4 linked regions of the Homo sapiens genome follow. The protein of the gene in region 2 purifies or fractionates together with the protein of the main gene of each other region. This does not show direct contact. Each region holds a gene or a part of one and is shown on either strand. Other genes may lie near its edges.

What was found.
Region 1: the proteins of ENTREP1 (region 2) and SLC12A4 purify together in Homo sapiens (affinity purification with mass spectrometry; 3 studies listed by BioGRID and IntAct, with this or other methods). This does not show direct contact.
Region 3: the proteins of ENTREP1 (region 2) and TBC1D15 purify together in Homo sapiens (affinity purification with mass spectrometry; 3 studies listed by BioGRID and IntAct, with this or other methods). This does not show direct contact.
Region 4: the proteins of ENTREP1 (region 2) and SLC26A2 purify together in Homo sapiens (affinity purification with mass spectrometry; 3 studies listed by BioGRID and IntAct, with this or other methods). This does not show direct contact.

What each region holds. Positions count from the first base shown.
Region 1 is NC_000016.10:67,958,638-67,962,407, forward strand, and holds part of SLC12A4 (solute carrier family 12 member 4), read right to left. Parts: intron 3,070-3,770; coding exon 2,938-3,069; intron 1-2,937. UniProt on the Homo sapiens protein: Mediates electroneutral potassium-chloride cotransport when activated by cell swelling. May contribute to cell volume homeostasis in single cells. May be involved in the regulation of basolateral Cl(-) exit in NaCl absorbing epithelia.
Region 2 is NC_000009.12:69,373,470-69,377,510, reverse strand, and holds part of ENTREP1 (endosomal transmembrane epsin interactor 1), read right to left. Parts: intron 1,776-4,041; coding exon 1,647-1,775; intron 142-1,646; coding exon 34-141; intron 1-33. UniProt on the Homo sapiens protein: Functions as an activator of the E3 ubiquitin protein ligase ITCH in the ubiquitination of the CXCL12-activated CXCR4 receptor. Thereby, triggers CXCR4 endocytosis and desensitization, negatively regulating the CXCL12/CXCR4 signaling pathway.
Region 3 is NC_000012.12:71,915,989-71,919,758, reverse strand, and holds part of TBC1D15 (TBC1 domain family member 15), read right to left. Parts: intron 2,062-3,770; coding exon 1,962-2,061; intron 1,309-1,961; coding exon 1,211-1,308; intron 1-1,210. UniProt on the Homo sapiens protein: Acts as a GTPase activating protein for RAB7A. Does not act on RAB4, RAB5 or RAB6.
Region 4 is NC_000005.10:149,977,488-149,981,257, reverse strand, and holds part of SLC26A2 (sulfate transporter), read right to left. Parts: intron 3,631-3,770; 5' UTR 3,606-3,630; coding exon 2,907-3,605; intron 966-2,906; coding exon 1-965. UniProt on the Homo sapiens protein: Sulfate transporter which mediates sulfate uptake into chondrocytes in order to maintain adequate sulfation of proteoglycans which is needed for cartilage development.

The DNA.
Region 1 (3,770 bases), on a different chromosome or scaffold from region 2:
ACCCTCTGTTGTCTTGTAATCCAGTGTGCCGTCCAACTCCTTGGCTTGGGCCACCAGATGTGTCCCATCACCTCTCTTATTAGCTCCAGCCCCTGACCACATGGGTCCCTCAGATTCTGCGAACCTGAGAATGTGCTGGACTCTGCCTGGGAGAGTCGGCCCTGCCTCACGGCCTGGCAAACTCTTCAGTGAAACTGTTACCTCTCTCGGGAAGATGTCCGAAGGTTGCCTCAGGTGGAGTTGGTTCTCCCTCTCACATTCCTTTGGCATCTGATACTCCCTATCACAGTGGTCACTACAGGTCATGGTAACAGAATGTGCTTGTATATTTTGTTACTATATTAGGGCAGGCTTGGCTTGTTTATGGTTCTATCACCAGCAGGCCCTGCAGGTACCCAAAAGGTGCTTCTGAACCCAGTGAGTGGTGCTTTGGAAGCCCCTGGGACATCCTGTTGGGAAAATCCTACAGAGAAAGTGCTCAGGCTGTAGGGCAGGTGAGGAAGATCTAATACGCAAATCCAGGCAGGCTTTCTCAACTCAGGGCAGAGTAGGGGCCAGCCAGGAGGCCAGGGCAGAGGCTGAGAGCACAGAGGCTGGCTGACATCTTTTTGAGGCACTGAGCCCCCAAGAGTGCAGCCTCCGAAGTGTGGCCCTGACAGCTTCCACTGGAGCCCCAGCAAAGCCTCCTCACTGATCCAAAGGACTAGATTAGTGAAAATCATACGGGGAGAGGGGACAGGGAAGACCCACGAGACAGTGCCCGTGCTGCCCTGAAGCTAGGGAGAAGAGAACTCCATGGCCATGATCTTGTCTAGCTGAGTCACCTTAGACAAGTTCCTTAATGCCCCTCCTGAAGGGTCCTGGCCTGGGGCAAGACCTGTGAGCGACCTAAAGGACTTCAGAAGAGCCTCAGCAAAAACAAATGGCTCCTCAACCTGTCCTGCGTGGAGCAGTGCAGGGGACGGATCCCCCTCATCTGGGCTTTGTCTGAGCCCTTCTCAGAGGATGCCACCCACAGAATAGCGACAGCAAGAGCTCCCAGTCCCACCCCCATCCCAGGCTGAGTCACTCTAAGAAAAGGACAGTGTGGGAAAGGGCAGGGTGGGCCGGAAATGCTTTCTGCATCCCCAAATAACCTCTGGCAGCCTCAGAAGGTCATCAAGCCGGTGCTGGAGCTGGAGCAGCTGCTGGGGAGAGGCTGCTTTGGGTCTTGGCATGGTCTGGTCGGAGGCCCACCCTTCCTGCTTCAAGCCTTCCTTTTCCGAGGCCCCTGCTCGGGCCTGCCCTGGGTGAGGACCACAGCTCAGCAGCCCCAGATCCCTAACTTCCTACTGACTCCTTAAAGACTTGACCCAGCTCCTCCTTCTTCCATGAAAAAACTACTGCAGCTAAGACACCCAGTCACCCTCTCCCATCCTTACCCTGTGGCCAGGTAAGCTGGATAGCTAAGCTAAGCATCCTCACGGGTTCCCCATTGGGCCAAGGGATGATGGGCTCTCTCTGGCCCAGGCATCCCTCCCACATTCCTGCTGAGATGTGCACTAGCCGTTCTCAGGGGCCTCTTCACTCCCCGCCACCAGCTCCCTGGCTTGGCCTGAAGGGACAAGGATGAGGCTCTGACCTAAGGATCCTGTCACCCACTGTGGGCAGAGCACTCTCAGAGGTTGAGACACCCCTGCAGTGCTGGACAGACATGGCCAGACGCAGTTAGGGTTCTCTGCTATCTAGTCACACCTGGCTGCACAGGGTCAGGGTCAGGTCTGTGCGACCTCAAGGTATCAGCTGCCCTCTCTGAAGTGTGGGCTGGTTTGCCTCCCTGAAGGGCAAGGTGAGAGACGCGCTTCAGTGGGGTCTACCTTCTCTGCTGGCCCCACCCCAGAAAGGCCCAAATCTCACGACCAGGTGTGAGGCTGCAGGCCTGGCTTATCCCAGCCAGGAGCGCCTTCTGCTTGTGCCGACCTCTGAGAATACTACAGCCAGTGCCAGACGTCAGCTCCTCTTAAAACACCACTGCTTCCCAAACCTCAGGGAGTCAGTGTGTGGAGAGGGAGGGTCCCTAGCCTCCAAATGAAAAATGTAGAAAAATCCCCAGCCCTCAGCTACACTGAGCCGCAATGACACAGAGGAGCTAGGCAAAGAGGTAACAGTCACCCCAAAGAGAAGAGGGCTGAAGGGCCAGAGAACTGGATTAGTGACCAAAAAGTGGGACAGGAAAGCCCCACAAGGCAGCATCAGGCTCCGATCACATACACATGTCCCCTGACACTGGCACTCAAGGAACCCAGGGGGTTGTTGGAGGCTTCTGCCAATAGAGCCTTGGGCCAACACTGCGAGCAGCAGGAGGGTTTGTGACTTGCTCTGGATTGCATGACCTCCGAGAGACAACCTGGTTCCTGGCTCCAAGGGCAACACTCTTAGCCAGCCTCACACAATGTCACTGATCTGGCATTTTGCATAGTTACATATCCCACAAATCTGTCTCCCATAAAATCTACGAATCCATCTCCCAGCATTACACATTGATCTTGTCTAGCTCAGTCACCTTAGACAAGTTCCTTAATGTCCCTGACACTATTTCCTTGTCTGAAAAATGGGGATGATAGTAAGCACCTGCCTCTTGGTTTTGTTGTACAGATGACATATGAGAACCCAGGCCTGGTGTGGTACCTCGCACACAGTAAAGGCTGAGTACAGGCAGCTGTGTCTCCTGCTGTCATTCCTGAGGGGCTCCCTGGCCCTCTGCCCCCCGGGGGGATTCTCATTAGGTCACTTCTTAAAGCCTCCTGAGACAAGGCATTCAGTGCCCATCCTCCCTGCTCACTATGCTTGGCACCCACTTCCCCCAGTGTGCTCACCACCATGTGGGGAAACAGTCAATTCCATGGTGCTGTGTCTGTCTTCCCAGGTGTGGCCCCTCTGCCGCCCCAACCAGCTCACCTCGGCTGCCCTCCGGCGGGTGCCCTCCCCACTCTCGGCCTCCTCATGCTCTTTGGCGCCCTGGGTGAGGTTGGTGTAGCTGACGAGCTTTCCCAGAAGAGACGATACCTTTGGGCGGATGTCCAGCTCTTCCTGCAAACAGAGCCACAGGGCAAGATGGCATTGGGCCAGGTGGGTGCCAGCTGTGTGGAGCCAGCTGCCTGGTCCCTGGCCCTGTTCCAAGCCCTGAGACAGGCCTGGGCCTGATCCCAGTTCCTACCTGGGGAAGTCCAAGCCATCCAACTGGACAGGTGTGCACACCACACCCCAGCACGTGGCACTCAAAGGCCCAGCCCCGCGGCTGCTTCTCTCTACCCCGCCTTGGCTACAATCACTGCCAGCCCATTTGTGAAAACCACCTGCCTCAGGGGAGAGAGGGCAGGGAAGAACACGGCTGGCAGGGGGGCAATGGCATACTTCATCCTGCCTGCTCTGCCCAGCCACCTCCTGGCTATGGCTGCACCTCTAGGACTCACGCCTACCCTCCCCACAAAAAAGCCACTCTAGTCACCTCAGGGAACCAAAGAGGGCAAAAGAGTGATGTCTGGGACAAGTGAAGTCTCCCTTGTCTGCCCAAACCCTGATCTCCCTGGATGGTCTTCCCCTGACCCCAGTCCTGCAAGTACCCACATCAATCGCGGAGATGGGATCCTGATCCTCCAGCCCATCCTCAGGCGGGGCTGGGCCAAGGCCTTCACCGCAGAACCTTGCTGCTTTCCCAGGTCAGGAGGCCTCCCAGAGCTCAGGTCCCCCAGCCCCACCGGGGTCTAGGCGATGATCCCTGCTCCTGCAGC
Region 2 (4,041 bases):
AAACGTGGCCATGATGCCCTTGCATAGACTTACGATGCAGGATCTCCTGGTTGCGAATATCTGGAGGTAGCGGAGGGCAGCGGCCACCAAGCAGACGGTGGTGGTCAGGGCATTCAAGGCACACAGGGCAAAGAGGACTTTCTGGGGCAAGGAAACAATGGCACCACTAAGTACTTCAACAAACATCACCAGAATACAATGTAGAAAATCTTTAAAATAATAATAACGCTGCCTCCATAAGACAATTCTCAGGAGAGGATGCATGTAAAGGACTTAGATGGTGTTTGGCTCGTGGAAAGTGCCCAAATAAATGCTGGCTATTATTATGACCCTCATGCAATAATGTGTACTTCTTAATTCCAAAAACTTATCTTAGAAGCTTTCTGTCACAGAACAACGTGGTATGATAGTATTTCTTTTTGCAAGCATCAGAATACTGTCGAGAAACATTCCTTCCAGGAGAGCAGTGAGCTTCTCTTCTGAGGCTGATTTCCCCAGGGATAGCAATTCCCAGCCTCCTCCCTCCCACAGCCTCCCACCAGCACAGCACACTGCTTAATTTGTGGCCACTAATTCTATTTCAAGAGCAATTGGCTGTGCTGCCCCATGCACACGACGAGGACACTGAAGGAGCTGGCCCAGCCAGAGTGTAAATAGGACTTCTCTCCACTAAACACACATCTCAAAATAGCAAAGGCCATTCCAAACGCTTCTGTTGGTACAGTCCTGGCTCCTTGAGTGGGGCTTTCCCCAAGCTAAGTCCTGGCTCAGAAAGTTTGGGGGTGACTCAGCTACCAAAAATGCAGAAGCCATGGAAAGCAGGCCATTTCCACATCCCACACAACCCAGAGCTGGTAGCTTGGAACAGTTCTCTCTTTCCTTGGAGATTCTTCCTCCCCACCAAAATGAAACCCAAAACAAATATCTAAAGAAAACCGGCAGAAGTGGACTCTCAAAAAGCCATACCTCAGGGTTCACCAGTTGATTTTGTCACTCACTGAGCTAATGTTCCTTAAGTCAGGGCACAATTTTTATCCAATTCCCTGATGAAGGCTAATTTTGTATTTCTCTTCAACTGGGATCATCTGTTTGTTTAATACCTTTGGCTTATTATAGTTGTTGCTTATTAAACAAGAGCTAAGGTGCTTCAATTCCCCCATATTTTCTGGCCAATCTCTCTCCTTAGTCTACGTGTTGCAGACTGGTAGTACTCAGTGGCCCATATGACCCATGTAAGCAAACAAATGAGCATCAGAACAATGACACACGAGTGTGCGACTTAAAGGTTTTGCTAAAAGCTACACCGTATATGTGTGTGTAGGTATACATATGTACGTATGCATATGTTTATATGTGGAAATATGTGTGTATGTGTATACATATACATATATATAGTCAGGCTCCTTTCCATTTTTTACTATCTTACAGTTCTTCAACACAAAGAAAGCTGTCCATACATAATTTAACACACACAATAATCTGTGGTTCTTTCTGCATTCAATTCTGTCTCTGGGGTCACTCACATGCGCTTTCAGCAGCTTAATTGTTTGAGGGAGGTAATAGAACAGGAATATTTCAAGTAAGTTTGCCTTCTTTGGGGGCTCCGTGGTGTATTTACCGTGCGGGTGGGAATCTGTTTGAGGTACCTTAAGTAGAAGGTGAACAGCACTACAGGGCTGAACCGGAAAGAGTTTCAAGGCATTTTCTTTGTCTGTGCACTTGGCTGGTTGAAATTCTTCACAACAGAAGCAAATCTTGCCTTCACCTAAGTCCACCTTAACGGAGGAAAGGTAAAAAAAAATACTTTAATTATTAAGAAAAAATACCCTGGCTCTACCATGGAGCACCAATCCTGTAGAATGAGATGATGGCAGGGTTCTGTGTCAGGCAATGCCTCTATCAGTCAGGATGGGCTAGGGTATAGCATGGTAACAACCAAAACCTAAATTTCAGTGGCTTTCACAAAACAAAGGGAATTTTAATATTCCTCCTTTCTCCTTTAAAGTCTCCAGCTGAGAACTTCCTGTTTTCATACTAATCCTGTTTAGTACTAACAAACAAGCAGCTAAATGAGATGAAGTATCAGCCTCCATTCTGCTCGTGTACATGAGTCCCACTCTTCCCCAAAAGGAACCAAACTCACTTTTTTTTCCCCAACACAATGCACTCTGATTTTCATTTTTTGCACTTGGTGCAAGCCTCAAGATCTTAACCTGAAAGCTCTATCTCTCTCAGACAATACTAGGCATCATCTTACAAAATATTCCCTTCCCAAACAAGTCCATTCTTGATACAAAGCGTTTAGTTAAGTGGGAAACCAGGCCTATGTGGGCTGCACACACCATATAACATAGATGTCCAGCTCTTCAGAAACTTCAGCTACCTGGCACCTCTGGAGTGAGCCAGTCTGGATGGCAAAATTTTCCAGATGGGTGAAATTCAGTCCCTTTAAACAACCCTATTTGAAAGTTTACTCATTATACAAATGATCACGAATACCAATTAATTTTCCCACTGGATACAAAGAAACCTCAGGCACTGTGCAAAATGATTCCAGGCAACTGTGCACTGTGCGTTCCTTCTCCCCTATTCCTGATCCTTGCAGAATCTAATACCTTCACCTCCATTCTTAATCCCATCTCTGCCCAATATTTCTAAAAACTTATTCTCACTTCTCATCAGTCACTTTAGCCTATCCACAAACAAATTTGTAGAAGTCTCCCTGATCCTAAATAATGAACATCCACCCTGCATTCTTGGTGCTACTGCCTGAAGAGGTCAGATCTTTGTCTTCCCCCTGTCACCTTTCAATAGCAGCATTCTTAATCCTGCCTGTACATTTGAATTTTCTGGAGAGCTTTTTAAAAAATGATGATGCCATCTTAAGCACTCAGGGAACTACAAATTAGAGTGACAGCAAGCTCTCACTCTGGCTTCATCAGACTGGCACAACTTTAAAAAGAGAGAAACTCTCTTTGCTGGTGGAGACGTGGAGAGCCACTGGTAGAAATTCACCAGTCACTGGTGAGTTTAAGCCCTTTAATGAAGGAACTGACTATCCATTTTAAATTAAAAATACTCACTTCCCCAACCACTTTGGAAAACTCTTTAGCACCGCATCATCCAGCAGCTCCGTGCCTAGGTATTCACTCAAGAGAAATGAAAACTGCCTCCCCAAAACAATAATGCTCACAGCAGCTTTGTTCATAATACCCCCAAACTGGAAACAACCTAACTGTCCATCAACAAGAGAACAAAAAAACAAAAAAATTCTGGTATTTTTATAAAATGAAATAGTGTCCTGAAAAAAGGAACAAACAACAGATACAATATAAAAATATGGATGAATTTCAACAACATTACACTGGGCAAAATAAGTCAGACACAAAAACTTTCAAACCGTGTGACTCCATCTACATGAAGTTCAAGGACATGCAAAACTAACCCATGGTGAAAGAAACAGGAACAGTGGTTGCCTATGAGAGAGTAGAGACTGCCTGAAAAGAGACACTAAAGAACTTTTTAGGGTGACAGAAATATTGTTTGGAGTACAACAAACAATATTTTGTTTGGAGTATAGAAATTGTTTGGAGTATAACATGAGTGTATACATTTGTCAAAATGAATGTATACATTGGTCAAAACTTATAATGAACTGCACACTTAAGATTTGTGTTTTTCACTGTAACTTCTACCCCAATTTAAAAGCGATGGATAGAACAATAAAATGGTTGAATTTGTAATAATAAATGAGATAAGCAGGAGAAAAGATACTGCTGAGAACAATTCCTTGTCCTGGGAACCTACTCCGCTTAGGACTAAAATCTCCCTGAGGATATACAGAATGATATTAATGGCAGCACTGTGTCTACTGGTCAAAACCCAAGCCACAACAGGCAATAACAAAATAAGGAACTAACTTGGTAAAAGAAATTAAGGGTGTTAGTCTGTATTTAATCTATCTCTAAGTGATACATCTTTAAGTGATAAAAACAGGATGCAGGGAAGTACATACAATATACCTCATTTAAAAAAAAATCA
Region 3 (3,770 bases), on a different chromosome or scaffold from region 2:
ACTCCCACATGCTTAGCGTTCCAATAATGGAACACTAGGCATAAATACATTAACCCATTTTTAACCCCCAAATTAAGACACTAATTTAACAAAACTGATAAACATTTAAGTACGATTCCAGATAGAGACCATGTGGGTTTTACTTCTAATCTGAGAACAGAGGAAGTGAGCATAAAGTAATCCACTTTTAACTTGTAATCAGCACAATGCCTTGTCTAATGGTAGCACAGCCATCAATAGTATAGGAATCCATTTCCAGCTGTAAAAACCTCAGAGACCACTAGAGTTCCACTGTATAAAGTTGGATTTACAATCAAAATGGATTATCTCCCAATTCTTTCCTTGGAAGAATTTCTGTTATCCTAAGGTATGATCAATCATTATACCAGCATTCTATGAACAAGCACACTGGGCTGGACACAGTGGCATACACCTGTAGACCTGTAGTCCCAGCTACTTATAAAGCTGAGGCAAGAGGATTACTTGAGTCCAGGAGTTCGAGATCAGTCTAGGTAACATAGCAAGACCCCTTCTCTTTAAAAAAAAAAAAAAAAAAAGCACACTGATTTATTATTAGCAAATACTTTAGAAAATGTGAAATGATTTGGTTTTTCATTAAAGGTTGCCATGGAAAAATAAACACTGGGGATTACACATGGGGGGATGGTGTAAGGGAAACATGGGATGTAAAATTACCTATTGGGTACTATGCTCACTACCTGGGTGATGGAATCATTCACACACCAAACCTCAGCAACATGCAATTTACCTATGTAACAAACCTGCACATGTACTCCCTGAACCTAAAATAAAAGTTGAAAAAATAAAGAGTTGCCTTGGGTAAAAAATGGAACAAAAGGAGTACACCAAAAACATAAGAATATCCTCTATAACAGATGTGGCAAAGCCTCACATAAAGTCAAGTCTCACAAAGGAAGAACAAAGGCAGCAAATGGTCTAGAGCACTTGTTCTGGGATACCTCTTGGCCCCAAATCTCACAGAGATTGTGATTTGAAGAACGAAGCTCCAAAAGACCAAATATTCAGTGTGAAACTAATTTTTAAGAAGAGGCTACCAGTTCATCAGAATTTTGGAACATACTTGCCTTAGATATTTCAGTAAGGCTATCATAATTCATTTACACTCTACAGAATAAATTGTTTCTTTTCATAATAAATATCACATTTGCATAATAATTTAAGGACTTACCTCCCATAATCGAAGAATATCTAGAAAACTAAATTCCCTTTTGAATCTGATTAAAAGCCACCTGAAGCAAAAATAAAGGTATCCAGAGTCCTGAGATTCTATGCAGAAGAAAAAAACACACATATGACTTACTCTTATGCTAATTATGTCAGAATACAGTTACTTTTCTCTAACTTTCCTATGCATCTTAGGCAATTCAAGGCCCTATACATTTGTCTTCTACGTTAAGGAATCATTTCAAACTTGAAGGCTGACTTCTTTTTAAAAACTAACAAATAATACATTTTACGAATCAAGTTTAAGGCAGAATTATACAAAGAGAGTTTGGTTCCACATTTTTATGGAACCGAAGAAAGTGCAATAGAGTATATATGTCTTTAAGTTCTTTTTTATTGAGACAGTGTCTTGCTATGTCACCCAGGTCGGAGTGCAGTGGAGTGATCCCAGTTCACTGTAGCCTCAACCTCCTCGGCTCAAGTAATCCTCCCACCTCAGCCTCTTGAGTGGCTGGGACTACAGGCATGCATCACCACAGCCAGCATTTTTTTTTCCTTGTAGAGATGGGGTCTCACTGTGCTAGCCAGGCTAGTCTCAAACTCCTGGGTGCAAGTAATCCTCCCTCCTTGGCTTCCAAAGTGCTGGGATTATAGGCATGAGCCACTGCACCTGGCTTCTTTAAAGAGTTCTTTACATTTTTTTCTATGCATTACTCTACAATTTGCTGGGTATAGTTCTGATTCACTAAACTTACCTAAGTAACTGCAAAATCCACTGTCTAACAATCGAAGTAAGGTACTCAGCTGAATTAGCTGGGTCTTCATGCCTTGCATTTGTTCTTCAAAATTCTGATGCTTTAAAAGGAAATAATTGTTACAAGTAATATTTAATAAATATTTTATAGTACATAATGACTGATAACTAAAACATGATGTCTAAGGACAAATGCTGAACTTATACCACACTGGTAATCTTAAAAAATGCGTAACTAACCAAAAATCTAACGTAACACTAAAAGGGAGGGTAAAGAGAAAGAATCCTTGCTCTCAAAACTAAGGATTATTTTTTCCTCTATTCATTTGACTTAGATAAAGAAGAATGCAGACATAGCAACTGCAGACTGACTATTTATTTCTTACACAGCATAAAAGACTTGGTGAAAGAAACACACATTTGGGAAATAAATATTTATCAAATTCTTTCCATTGTTAAATATTCCTTCAAATTATACATAATAAAATTAATTTTAGTTTTAGTATGTATTTCATTTTAAAGAATTACTTTACATTGGAGAATCTGTAAAGCCAAAACCATTTTCAGGACAATACTAAAACATTATCTGGATTTCATACTTAAATTCTTTCACAAGTGCAAAGGCTGTATGATGTGTGATACTCCAAAAGACTGAACACAGAAGCAAATATGAAAATTCAGCTGTCTTCTATTAAACCAGACATTTTTAAAAATGAAAAATTTAAAACAATCTCTTGTGTCGGTAAATTTTTCATTAGGAAAGGTTACTTTTCATTAAAAAAAAGTGATCTATGTTAAGGTAGAATGTGTTGTTATTTAATGAATTAATAAATAAATGAATACAAGTTTCTCAGTATTAATTTTTCACATAAACATCAACAGATATAACCCACATAAACAAAAACTCTTTCAGGTCTTCAATAATATTGGAGAGTGTGAAGGGGCCCTGAGGTCACAAAGTTTGGGAACTGCTGGGGTTCATATGCTTTAAAGAAACTTCATAGTTGAGTAGACTCCCTACCAACACCTGAGTCAAGGGGCCAGAAGGCACCAAAACTGATGCTCTGAAAGGCTTCTTAAATGATTTGGATCCCTTTAACTCATATGTCCCGATCCCTCTGTGGTAACCTACCGCCCTAACCCTAGTGAAAGCCTTAGAAAAACATTTCCTCCTTCACACTTACTTTTTCACTTTTACAGTACAATAGTGCTTTATTAGAACTATCATATTAGAAACAATTCATTCTTAAAAAAAATTTAAGTCTATTAATTCTCAATAAGCTGTTTCTCTTTAATGAATTTTAAAAACCAGTTTATTAATAGACTAACTCAAGGCTTTAGGATATAGTTCCTCCACATTTACCAGAGAGATCTATAGAGAAGGGGCAGAATCAACTCTGATTAACAGGATCATTTTTGCTGTGACACAGTCAAAGACTAGAGCTGATCTGGGAATACCAACATGGCATAGACATTTGCTACCCACTCTGCTGTAAAAAAGAAACATGTCCATAATGACAGACACCATATTCGAAAAAGTGGTTACTCCTGGAGAAGGGAGAGTGGGATCAACAATGGATATACAAAGGGCTTCAAATGTGTCTGTAAATAAATGTGTCTGTATGGGGCAGGGGAGGGGGAGATGGAGAGGAGAAAGGAATTAAAACTATATGGCAAAATGGATGATGGGTATAACAAAGTTCATCAGATCACTTGTACTTTGTATTTCCATGATAATAGACAAAGTCTATGCCTAGACCTACATTAGATGCAAGTAAACATCAACAAAAGTAAATTTACAGACGTTAGG
Region 4 (3,770 bases), on a different chromosome or scaffold from region 2:
CCAAGCAGTGAACTCTTTGGCTTCTGAGTGCGGAGGATGACACAAAATATAGAAAAACAAACCCCAACAAGTAGGCCTATTTCAGTACTTAGCAGTGCAGAGGACAGCATAGTAACAAACCAGATAACTGTATCCATTCTACTAATACTCCACATTTTGGGAAGATCCCTAAATTTACGAAGGGCTCCCCGTAGATTTACAATTGTGATCACACCAAGGACACTTTTTTGAAGGGAATAGAACAAAGGAGCTATTACTAGGAGGACCAACAAAAGAACCAGGGCTGTTACCACACCAGAAAGCTGAGTATGGCAGCCTGTTGATTCTTTAACCAATGTCTTTGCAAGAGCTGCACTAGTAGTAAAACAGTGGAAGAAGGAAGGGATGATATTACAAAAGCCAATGGCATACATTTCCTGGTTTGCTTTGACTGTGTAACCATGTTTCTTGGCAAACATCTCAGAAAGTGATACAGTGATAGCAAAACCAATGATGGAAATAGCTATTGCATCTACAGCCACACTAGGAATTAGGTTCCATTCTGGTACTTTGGGTGGCATAAACCCAGTGGGAATATGTCCAGCAATACTAGAATTATAATTTTCATGTAGTTTTCCAAAATGAGAGGCTAATGTGGCTGCTACAACAACAACAAGTTCAATAGGAATCGGTGCCTTAAGCTTGGATTTGAAGTGTTCATTGAGTTCTTTGGTTGGCAAAAGAACCAAAAGGCACAAAAGGCTGGTGATAAGATCACAGAGATTGGTCTTATGGATGTTTCTGAAGACATGTATCCAGGTAGTGATGAGTGAGCCCACACCATTAGTCCGAGGAAGGTTGAGCCCAAGAAGATACTTGGCCTGAGATGTAAGAATAGTGAAGGAGGCACCAGTGACAAATCCACTCAGCAAGGCATCTGAGAGGTAGACAGAAACAAAACCCACTTGAAAGAAGCCCATCGCTACCTGGAAGGAAGGATATAGAAGTGTTAAATATAAATGGAAAAGAACTTCTAAATTTTATATTATCCTGACATTTCTTGCATGGAGACATATCATCAGAGCATCACAGAATGTCAGAGCTAGAATAAACACAATCATATATCAATCTTCTCATTTTACAAAGATGAAAATTATGTTTAAAGGGCTAAGCAACTTGCCCAAGGTCACACTGTTACTTATTAACCCAGGTGAGACAGGAACTTTGGATTTCTTTCTTTTCATACGTTTCTTAAACTTGAATAAGGTTCATACCTCTTTTTTTTTTCATTCTTCCCATCACAAAGAACAGACCTCTTTTAAAAGAAAAACATTCTCAAGGATCCACAAGAAAACTTCAAATTGGAAAAAATTATTCTAGTTAAGAAACCAAGTATTTTCCTTAAATTACAAATCACTACTGTAAAAGTGAAGTCTTACGGCTTCTCAGCCTCTTGGCTAAGAGCAAGTGTACAAGTGAAGTTTTAATTGGTAAAACAAAAAATTAGATTTACATCAAAGTAGAATCACACTTTAAAAATTATTGTAGATTATCTTTAACCTCATACTAAGAAACCATTCTCATGCAGTATATATGTACTTATGCCACACTGTCTCCCATATTAATAAAAATTCTGCATTTTTACTTCTTTATATTTTCCTCTGTCTAATAAGTTTTCAGAATTGTTATGCCTTCTTCCTTCTTGGTGGGACATACTAACAAAAAGGCAAAAGTTGGTTGGGCGTGATGGCTCATGCCTGTAATCCCAGCATTTGGGGAGGCAATATTGGGAGGATCACTTGAGCCCAGGAGTTTGGTCATAGAGAGACCCTGTCTCTTTATAAATAAATGAATAAATAATAAATAAGTAAGTAGACTTATTATTTACCATTATATATGAGTAGACAGCTCATCTTCACACCATCTTCACTCTCCCTCCCCACTCATCTGAGCACCAACTAAAGTGAGCTACTCTTCCCCTTCCCTTGTTGGTTTGAAATGCCTGCATTAGAGAAGGTTTAATCCTGGCACTGACTCCTGGATGCCAAAAGCCAGGGGCATGATGATAATGACAGATTAGTGGATTCTATGGGAGACTCAAGAATTTGATTTCTTATCCTTTCTCCTGGCTGATAATATGAAACTGTGGTCCCCAACTTTTTCCCTCCCTCCCCAACAATCCAAGACAACCACTACCTTTAGTAAGAGTTGCTCAATAGATCAGCAATTTTAATGGAAGGTAAGAGACATTTAGAATTTGAGGCTGGGTGTGGTGGCTCATGGCTATAATCCCAGCACTTTGGGAGGCCAAGACGGGAGGATTGCTTGAGCTCAGGAGTTTGAAACCAGCCTGGGCAACGTGGCAAAACCCTGTCTCTACAAAAAATAAAAATAAAAAATAAAATAAAATAAAATAAAATAAAATTAGCCAGGTGTGGTAGCATGTGCCTGTAGTCCTAGCTACTCAGGAGGTTGAGGTAGGAGGACTGCTTGAGCCAGGGAGGCGGACGTTGCAGTGAACTAAGATAGTGCCACTGCACTCCAGCGTGACAGAGTGAGACCCTGTCTCCAGAAAAAAAAAAAAAGTGAGAAACTCCTGCACTCTCAACTCCATTCTGTTACCCACTTGCCTAACTGCTAATGCTGACTCTGCCAATAACCAGCCACAAATAATCTCAAGCAAAGCCAAGATTTTCTGACATGTAAAATTAAGGAGTTGTACTGGGTGGTGGAGGTCCAGTGAACCAGCCTTATATTACCTGTGGAGTCAGGTTAGGGTTTGAATTTTGCCTCTACCCTTCATATATCCTGAACTCTCAATAAATGATACCTTTAATTATTGTGATTCCTCAGATCCCTTAGAGATATGAGATTTCATGTACTAGATTACTTTTCTAGAAATAACCAATTGTTTCATTGCTGCTTACCTGATAAACTCCAGCTATAAAGGTTACAGTGCTGCCAACCATAATTGCATAGCAACTTTTGTCACATATCCTGTCTGATGTATGATTTAATAATGTGCTCCCATTTGAAACCATTCCTAAGGAAGGAGCACTATGGGCATTGTCATAGCCAGCTTTCTGTAGTTCTCGGTCAACTGTCTCACCAATCATAAGGCACAGTACTCCAAAAATGCCCACAGAGATGTGACGGGAGGTACCCAAGAGAAAATAAATGATGCTGGCAAAAAAAGATGTGTACAGACCATAGACAGGTTCTTGGCCAGCCAGCAGGGAATAAGCAATGGACTGGGGCACCAATAATATGCCCACAATCAAGCCTGACATCACATCCCCTAAAATGTTTTTCTTTAGGTCGTATTTTGGGAGCCACTGCAAAACAGGAAGGAAACCTAAAATCATATTTTTGGCTTTGGCTGGACTGCACTGGCAATTCTTCTGCAGCTTTTTAATAACAAACTCCTTGAAGTTTGTATCTGATTTCTCTTGACGCTCAATAAGGATCCTATGATAAGGTCTGCATTGATCATTGGTCTCAAATTGCTTGAAGTCAGTACTTGATTCCCTTTGAAGTTCCAGATGGATCCCAGATGGATAACTGTCATTTCCTTCAGCTGAGTCTCTGGGTGAAACGTTATGTTGCTCTTTACTTTCTGAAGACATTTCTGGAGATAGATGGTTCAGCTTCCTACACCAGAGAAAATACCAGTGTTCATCAATAAAGTAATTCTCAGTGCTCACATATACTAACAATTCTATTTGTCATTTCATGAGAGTTAAAAGGAATTCAGTTTTGGAATAGGTATCTTATGTCCCTTTTCCTTAATT